Regions from separate parts of the Homo sapiens genome. Here regions 1 and 3 are each linked to region 2. Evidence: fine-mapped expression QTL. A gene starts in region 2. Each other region holds a variant in brackets. All regions are shown on one strand. Distances are from middle to middle. Region 1 overlaps ARHGAP31 (Rho GTPase activating protein 31). Region 2 holds the start of TMEM39A (transmembrane protein 39A). Region 3 overlaps ARHGAP31 (Rho GTPase activating protein 31).

The links.
Region 1: its variant is fine-mapped to the expression of TMEM39A in sun-exposed skin (GTEx, PIP 0.90).
Region 3: its variant is fine-mapped to the expression of TMEM39A in tibial nerve (GTEx, PIP 0.95).

The regions. Positions count from the first base shown.
Region 1 is chr3:119,410,192-119,412,954 of GRCh38, forward strand. All of the region lies in intron 11 of ARHGAP31 (Rho GTPase activating protein 31), which reads left to right. Among named protein-coding and RNA genes, the nearest start is that of TMEM39A, 52 kb to the right of the region's middle. The variant A/G (reference allele first, on the strand shown) is at 1,322.
Region 2 is chr3:119,462,158-119,464,920 of GRCh38, forward strand. TMEM39A (transmembrane protein 39A) reads right to left here and starts at 1,458. Exons shown (of 9, transcript NM_018266.3): 1 at 1,179-1,458. RefSeq lists enhancers at 1,129-1,618, 1,649-1,708.
Region 3 is chr3:119,393,366-119,396,128 of GRCh38, forward strand. It overlaps ARHGAP31 (Rho GTPase activating protein 31), which reads left to right. Exons shown (of 12, transcript NM_020754.4): 8 at 102-226. Among named protein-coding and RNA genes, the nearest start is that of TMEM39A, 69 kb to the right of the region's middle. The variant A/C (reference allele first, on the strand shown) is at 1,608.

The DNA of each region.
Region 1 (2,763 bases), 52 kb before region 2:
CTTATTTCCAAAACAATAAATATTTCCAGGATCCATTCTTTCCTTCCGTGGGCTCTGGAGAAGTTAAAATACAATGCTGGAGCTGACTAAACCTTGTCTACTTTTTAGAGGTGGAATTTTCCAAGAAGGTTTTTATGGGATGTCCTTCAATAGAAAGTGTGAGGAGGTTTTCCAGGGATACCCAAGGAGGAGTCCTGCATTTGAGAGGCAGCTCTGTGACCAGAGGAGGGCACCAGAAAGGAGGATGCCTTTGAACTTGCTTCCAGAGTCTTGATTTTCAGGACGTGCACAAAAGAACCATGTGCTGGGAGTTAGGGCAGAGTGGAGTGCCATGGAGGCCTCAGGATGGCTGAGCTAGGGTCTCTATAAGATATATTGGCATTTGTTGAAGGGGAAAGATGAAGAGATTCATATGGGGATTGATTGAATTATTACAGGGAGGACCCTGTAGGAATGAATGGCATTGCTTTGAGAAGCAGGTAAAGTTAGTGCTGGAAAGAGAACCGGGTGGATTCAAGGGAACAAGTAAAGGCATCAGTTCATTCATTCATTCAAAACATGTATTTAACATGAACTTTGTGCCAGGCACTGGCATCACTGTAGTGAACAAGGCTTTAACCATCCCTGCCTTCTTGGAGCTAACAGCCTAGTTGGGAAAAGATTGAACAAGTAATTCCTGGGGTGCTATGGAAGCATGGAGTGCATGGGAGCACATAGCAAGAGGACCCAACCTAGTCAGAGGGAGGAGGCATGCCACAAGGGTCGGGGAAAGCTTCTCTGTAGAGTGCATATTCAGGCAGATAACTTAGATGGAAGAAAGGGGCAGTGGGTGGACTAGGAAAGGAGAGACCTCCAGGCAGAAAGAATAAGATGTGCCATGAATCCAAGGTAGAAAAGAGCATTCCCATTCAAGGAATGGGAGCAAGGCTGGGATAGCTGGGCTGGAGAAAGTGAGACTCAGGGGGATGCAGGAGCCAGGACTTCTTGGAAGGGATTTGGGGTTTAACCTAAGGGCAATGGGAAAGCATATGAGGTGTTCAGAATTTTGTCTTTAATGGGTCATTCTATTCTGTGTGGAGAATGGCTTGAAGAAAGGAGGCACGAATGCATCAGGAGGGGAGTATGTGGTAAGCCAGGAGAGAAAAGCTGGAGGTGTAGACTAGTGTGGGGCCATGGGGATAGAAATGAAGGGCTACAATCACTATTTAGAAGGTAGAATGGACAGGACTTGTTGAAGGATTAGATAAGGGCTGAGAAAGAAGGAAACGTCAAAGGCACCTCATAGGTTTCTGGTTTGAGCAAAGAGATGCACTGTGGGTCC[A/G]CTTACTGAGAGGGCAGAGTGAAGTGGAAGGGAGTTTAGATGTTCATTTGTTCATCTAAATTTATGGTTTCTCAGTATTGATTTCTTAGTAATATCCCAGTTAATGTAGGTGCTGAGGAGAGTAAAGAGATGAAGCTGTCCCCGCTCCGAAGGAGGGCACAGTCTAGTAGGCAAAATAGAAATGTTCACAAATAAATGCAGTGTGGTAGAAGCAGATTAATTTTGATAAAGTAATCCCACAGAGATATGTGAAAGAAATAATCCAAAAGAAAACACTGAATCCATTACAGTTCAGCAGACCCTTTATTGAGCCCCCATTCACAGTATACCAGGCACCTTTTGGCCTTGTTGAATCAAAGATGAATAAACACAATCCTGACCTCAAGAAGCTCACAGTCCATTGGGAATAATAAGACAAGCATTAAAGTAACTGTAATATGAAACAACAAGTGATTAGAGCTAGGTGAGAAGGGACGAGAGGTCAGCAGCAAAAATTACTTTCACAAAGGCCTGTGCCATCCCAGGATGGAGATTCGTCCCCCGGCTGCCTCGCCCTGGGACAGAATTAGGCCTTGAGGCAAGAAATGAAAGAAATTGGGCCAGGCATGGTGGCTCACACCTTTCTGAGCACTTTGGGAGGTTGAGGCGGGCGGATCACCTGAGGTCAGGAGTTTGTGACCAGCCTGGCCAACATGGTGAAACCCCATCTCTACTAAAAATACAAAATTAGCCGGGTGTGGTGGCACATGCCTGTAATCCCAGCTACTTGGGAGGCTGAGGCAGGAGAATCGCTTGAACCCGGGAGGAGGAGGTTGCAATGAGCCGAAATCATGCCACTGCACTCCAGCCTGGGTGACAAAAGTGAAACTCTTTTGTCTCAAAAAAAAAAAAAGAAAAGAAAGAAAGAAATTGAAATTGGTTGTCCTGGCCCTGAGCAGGCCTCCTTCCATCCTTTTCCTGTCTATAGCTTTGGGCCTTATGTAGGGAAAGGGAGGAGTCTAGAAGGACAAAGGGAAGCTGGACTTGAGGGGAGACAAGGACAGCAAGCAAGGTGGAGGAGTAGGCAGTTCCACAAACCACAACAAAGAAATCCCCATCATGTTAACAGTGGTTATCTGTGGGGAGTAAGGATGTATGATTTTGATGTCTTTGTATTTGCCTTTATTTTAATATGTATTCATATTTTTTTCCATGTGAAATATGTATTTCCTTGGTAATAAGAAAAAAGAGACTGGGCGTGGTGGCTCACACCTGTAATCCCAGCACTTCTGGAGGCCTAGGTGGGAAAATTACTTGAGCCCAGGAGTTTGAGACCAGCCTAGCAACATGGTGAAACCCCATCTCTACTAAAAATACAAAAATTAGCCGGGTGGCACAGGCCTGTAATCCCAGCTACTTGGGGGGCTGAGGCAGGAGAATTGCTTGAACCCAGGAGGTGGAGG
Region 2 (2,763 bases):
AACAAAAACATTTAAACATCAGTAGACTATTTTTAAAGTAGGCAACAAAACAACGACAAACACTGAGTAAGCAGGCCTTACAAAATAAGATTTTCAAACGAATGTTCCCAGTGTCTACTACTTACGTTATTCGAATTAAAGGACTACTCAGACTCTAATGGGTCAAAAGCCTAAGTTCTGATCTAAGCTCTGTTCAGCTTTAGGCAAGTGATGATTTGTGTCTTTTGTCAACTGATTTGTATCATCTGTAAGATATTATAATCAAATAGAAGTTTACAAGAAACATCACACCTTATACATTTCCAGCTCAATGTTTCACACTTAAACTACTTGAAATATAGAAGAATTGGCACTTTATAAAACATTAGGTTTTGTTATCAAGGGATATGGCTTGTGAGCTCAGATGGTCACATATTATCTGACCTTATCCGGATAAGTTAACTTCTGAGTGTGTTCTTCTGAGTGTGTTTCTTCAAGGGGGGGGGGCGGGGGGGGGGAGTGTCCCCTGTTCTGCAGAGGTTGTCAGGACTGAGGAAGTGGAATGAAAGGGTACCAGTAGTTCTTTTAACAGTTTAAAAGTAAAACTGTTCGAGTGGTATCTCTATATGTTAGGGTTAAAATATTGAAAGAAACTCTTCAAGGGGATGCCCGCTCCAGAAAAGCTGGTGTAAAATCATACAGAAATTACTGAAACTGCAAGATTAAGAAGCAAGTAAAAGATAAAGATCCTCACTGGAAAAAAAAAAAAAAGCTCTTTTCATCATTCTACGGCAAAAATCATGATTCTGTCAACATGGATACCAATGTTTCCTAAACAATACAACTAAAACCCAAGGATGACACTGGAAAAAACCCGTGTTTTCAAATGCTCCCTATTCCTAACAGCCTTCGGCTGTAAACTAACCCCAAGTCAAACAAAGCATTCAAACCGCTGGATGCAGGGGCTGCTGGTCCTTGCTCCATTAACAAGCAAAGGGAAAGAAAAGTGCAGGGAAAAAACTGGGACGGAAGAGGTGAGAGTATGCGGTGTGGTGGACTGCAGGAGACCACAAACTTCAACAGACTGGTCCCTAAGAGAAGTCGGCAGAAAGGTAGACAAAGCAGTCTCCGCCGCACACCCAAGAGGGCCGAGGCAGGTCCAGGACAGCCGGACCTTGGGGCAGCTCAGTAATACTCACGCATGGAAGAGTCCCAGCCGGTGGGGCGGGGTCCCTAGAAAGCGGCGACAACTTTACAGACTGGACCCCAGGTAAGGGAACTCCCTCCCAGCGTTGGAACGCTGCAAACCAGCTGCTTGGACGCAGGCAGCCCCCGCCTAGAGAATCAAGAAAAGGTGTCCAGGCTTCGGGCTGCCAGACTCAGACCCAGACTCCGACGCAGTTCCAGTGCCAGAGCTAAAGCTAGAGCCAGAGCCTGATACTTCAGCACCCATCCCTAGCCTCCATTACCGCGGAGCTGAGCAGACGTGGCAGCGCACGGCGATGACGTCAGCTACGCGACCGCGGTCTGCCCCAGCCGCGAGTGCGTCCCCGGAATCAGCCGGCACGACAACCCCTACCATTTGCACCTGCGCAGTGGGGCGCGCCTTCTCCTCTTAACTCGCGGTCCCGCCCCTTCCGGCCAGTGTTGGCCAAAGCATTTCCTCTTTCGGCCTCAGTCAGCTAGCGGCTGCTAGGTGCGGGCACCATGCTACTGATCCTTCTTGCTGTCTCTTGGACTCCATGTAGTAACCATGTACAAGTTATCACCGCCATTTTACAGATGAGTGTAGATTAGGAGGTGTCACCTAGGGTCACGTTACTGCTAAGTGAGGGAGCCCAAGTCATGAAGTCATGCGTCAGCATCCAACCCTGCGCTTATTGTTTGCTAAGAACTAGACAGATGCTGTGGTTACAAAGCGAATACCACAAAAGCTCAGAGTCTAGTGGAAGAGAGGCGACACTAAGAAAATACAGTAATTACCATTTGTTACAATATTAAAAGTGTGTCCAAGGTCCAGAGATAGCATGTAACACTAACGAATTCTGTGGGATGGTGGTGATGTCAATACCAAGAAAAGCTTTGCAGAGAGCTTGGGGTTTCAGCCAAGACTCCACAAAGGCATAGGGGCTTTGTGGGAGAATGGCAGTCCTCCTGGAGAAGTGGCAGATAAAAAGGTAAAGATCTGTGAGCAACGTCATCTTGAGTTCAGGAATTGACAATAGTTTGGTATTAGAAGAAGATAAGAGTGTCAAAAGGAGCATTTGTGTAATCTTTCACTCCAGAGATTTTAATCTCCTTAATAGAAAGTTGTTTGTATTGATTGAATGATTAACCTTTATTAAGAATTTTGTTGTGTCAGGCACTGGATTAGTAGCTTTACACATTTCATTTAAATCTCACATTTTGATAGCTTCTACTATGGTTATTATTTTACAGAAGAAACTGAAGTTAAGAGAAGTTAAGTAGCTTGTTGAAAATAGCCTGCCTGGCCAGGCAGGGTGGCTCATGACTGTAATTCCAACACTGGGAGGCCAAGGCAGGAGGATCACTTGAGCCCAAGAGTTTGAGACCACCCTGAGCAATATAGTGGAACCTTGTCTCTATGAAAAAAGTAAAAAAATAAATCGGGCATGGTGGCTCACACCTGTAGTCCCAGCTACTTGGGAGGCTGAGGTGGGAGGATCACTTGAGCCCTGGAGGTCAAGTTTGCAGTGAGCCGAGATTGTGCCACTGCACTCCAGCCTGGGCAACAGAGAGAGACCCTGTCTCAAAAATAATAAT
Region 3 (2,763 bases), 69 kb before region 2:
ATTCATAACTGAGGACATAACTGGAATATTTGGTCTCAATTTAAAAGTCCCCTTGAAATGACAAGTTAACAAACTAACCCCTTATGCCTTGGTTCTTTTAGGCGAAAGCTCTCCAGTAAATCAAAGAAGTGGAAATCAATATTTAACCTGGGACGTTCTGGATCAGACTCCAAATCAAAACTGAGTAGAAATGGGAGTGTATTTGTGAGAGGACAGAGGCTCTCGGGTAAGAATCAACAGCAATTGTTTTATGATACAAATATTTGTTTCCTAACTCTGCTTATTAAGTCTTTGGTTTGATCATATCAAACACACTAGCTCTGAAAGAGAAACTTATAAATTAACTAGGGGAAGAGGAGTCTTTTTTCAAAACATTTTAGACTTACCAAAAAAATTGCAAAAATAGTACACAGAGAACCTGTATACCCTTCATGCAGCTTCTCCCAATGTTAACATCTTATATAAGTTATCAAAGCCAAAAATTAATATTGATACAATACTCCTAATGAATTTGCAGATCTTATTCACATTTGGCCAGCTGTCCCACTACTGTTCTTTTTCTGGTCTAGGATCCAATCCAGGATCTCACGCTACATTTGGTTGTCATGTTTCCTTAACCTCTGCCAATCTAGGACAATTCCTCCATCTTTTTGACCGTGATAACTTGGAAGAGTACTGGCCATTTGTTTAGTAGAATATACCTCAGGGAGAGTTTGTCCAGTGTTTTCTCATGGTTAAACTGAGGTTAGGAATTTTTGCAGAAATCCTACAGAAGTGATCCTGTGCCAGACTCAGTGTGTTATATTAGGAGGTACATGATGTCAATATCTTATTGCGTGTGAAGAGAACTGTGATCCCTTGGTTAAAGTGCTCTTTGTCATGAATTTTAGGATCCTCTGATGGTTCTTGGATGTAACAATTATTCCTATGGCATTTGCTAAATGATGATTTTCTATTAATTGGAATTCTGCTGAAAAGACCTGTCCCTTCTCCCCCAGGGTCGTGATTTTTAAAGAAGGATGCTACCCCATGGGACTTATTTCTGAGTAGTGCATAGAAATTGATACAGGAAGGAACTGAGGGAACCATATATAGTGGGGAATTTAACCAATGCAGCTGAATATTATGTCAGGAAAGAGAAGACCAAGGAAATTTTTCATAATGATCTTTAGTGTTATAGATTGAAAGTATGATAAAAATGGAGGCAATAGTTATGAAACCAAGGTGTAAAAGAGAAATGTACAAATGCAGTGAGCAAACTTTGACTGGATCCTGGAAAAAAAACCAAAAAAACAAAAAAAAGAGCTGACCGAGCACAGTGGTTCGTGCCTGTAATCCCAACACTTTGGGAAGCTGAGGTGGGCAGATCACTTGAGCCCAGGAGTTCGAGACCAGCCTGAGGAACATAGCAAAACCACATCTCTAAAAAACAAAAATAAGAAAAAACAACAAAAGACAATTTGGGGAACAAAGAGGGAAAATGTGGATATAGAAGATATTAAATGATATTAAGGAATTATAAATTTTCATAGTATGCTAATGGTTCTTAGGAGACATATACTAAAACTAAAGTATTCAAGGATGAAGCAGCAAAATATTGACACTTT[A/C]AAATAACTAGCAAATTATAGGTAGGTAGATAAATATCAATATAGAAATAGATAATGCAAATATATGGCAAAATGTCAATAATTATCAAAACTAAGGTGGTAAGTTTAAGGGTGGTAGGTTTCTAAATGTTTGAAATTTTTAATAGAGATTTGGGGGAAAATTAATTCCTATAGGAAATATGTGAGATAATATTTTTAACGACTTTCCTCAAACCCGGTGATAATCACATGCCAAGGATCAGGAAGTCCAGATGTTAGAAACCTTCGTGTTTGCCTGTTAGAGTAAGGAGGGGTGTCACAGTACAGCAGTTACAACGATTTAGGCTGTAAATAATGGCAAATCAATTCAATCAACTTATGCAGTGAGGGAATTTACTGGCTTCTGCAGTTGAACACCCTGATAGAGGGAAGGCTTCAGGGGGTTTAATACAGGGGCTCTGTCATGATTTCTCCATGTTTTCCCCAGCTGTCCCAGCTGTGTCCCCCTTTGGGTCAGCTTCATCCCCAGACTGGCTTCCTTTGCTGTGGCAAAGTGGCTGTAGTAGTTCTAGGCTTTCCCTCTGACTATCCCACTAGGTCCAGAGGGAGAAAGAACATTTCTGGTAGCTTGCTCCTAAGAGCAGGGACCCTTCTTTTCCAGAAGGCCTCATCAAAATTCCCCTTGTCTCGGTATCCTTCACTGAGCCACATGGTTCGGTCCCTGTTGTCAATGGTGTGCCTTGTGCTGATTGGCTTCAGCCTGGGATCCTGAGCCAACCCCTTGCATGAGGAATGGGACTTACACCCAAGAAGTACAAGAGCTATGTGCGAAGGGCAGAAGGGAAATGGATTCTGGGTCTGCATCTGTAATCATCGTATGGCAAAACTCAGCTTACACAAAATGGAAAGATAGCCTGAATGAAGAGGACAGGTTGCCACAAGTATGGCAAGACAGATGCAAATCAGAAAATAGGATTCTTAAGGGAGAAACTGGGGAGAAGAGTACCTGACCAGAAACTCCTAATCTATGAAAAGAGATTTGCTTAAGCACGTCAAAGAGAGAATTTCAGTTGCAGAATCAGTGGTACAGCCATGAAAGAGGTTCACCAGTAATGAAAAGTCAAAAAATAACAAAACAAAACAACAAAAAGGAAATAAGTGGTTTGCTTTGATCTTA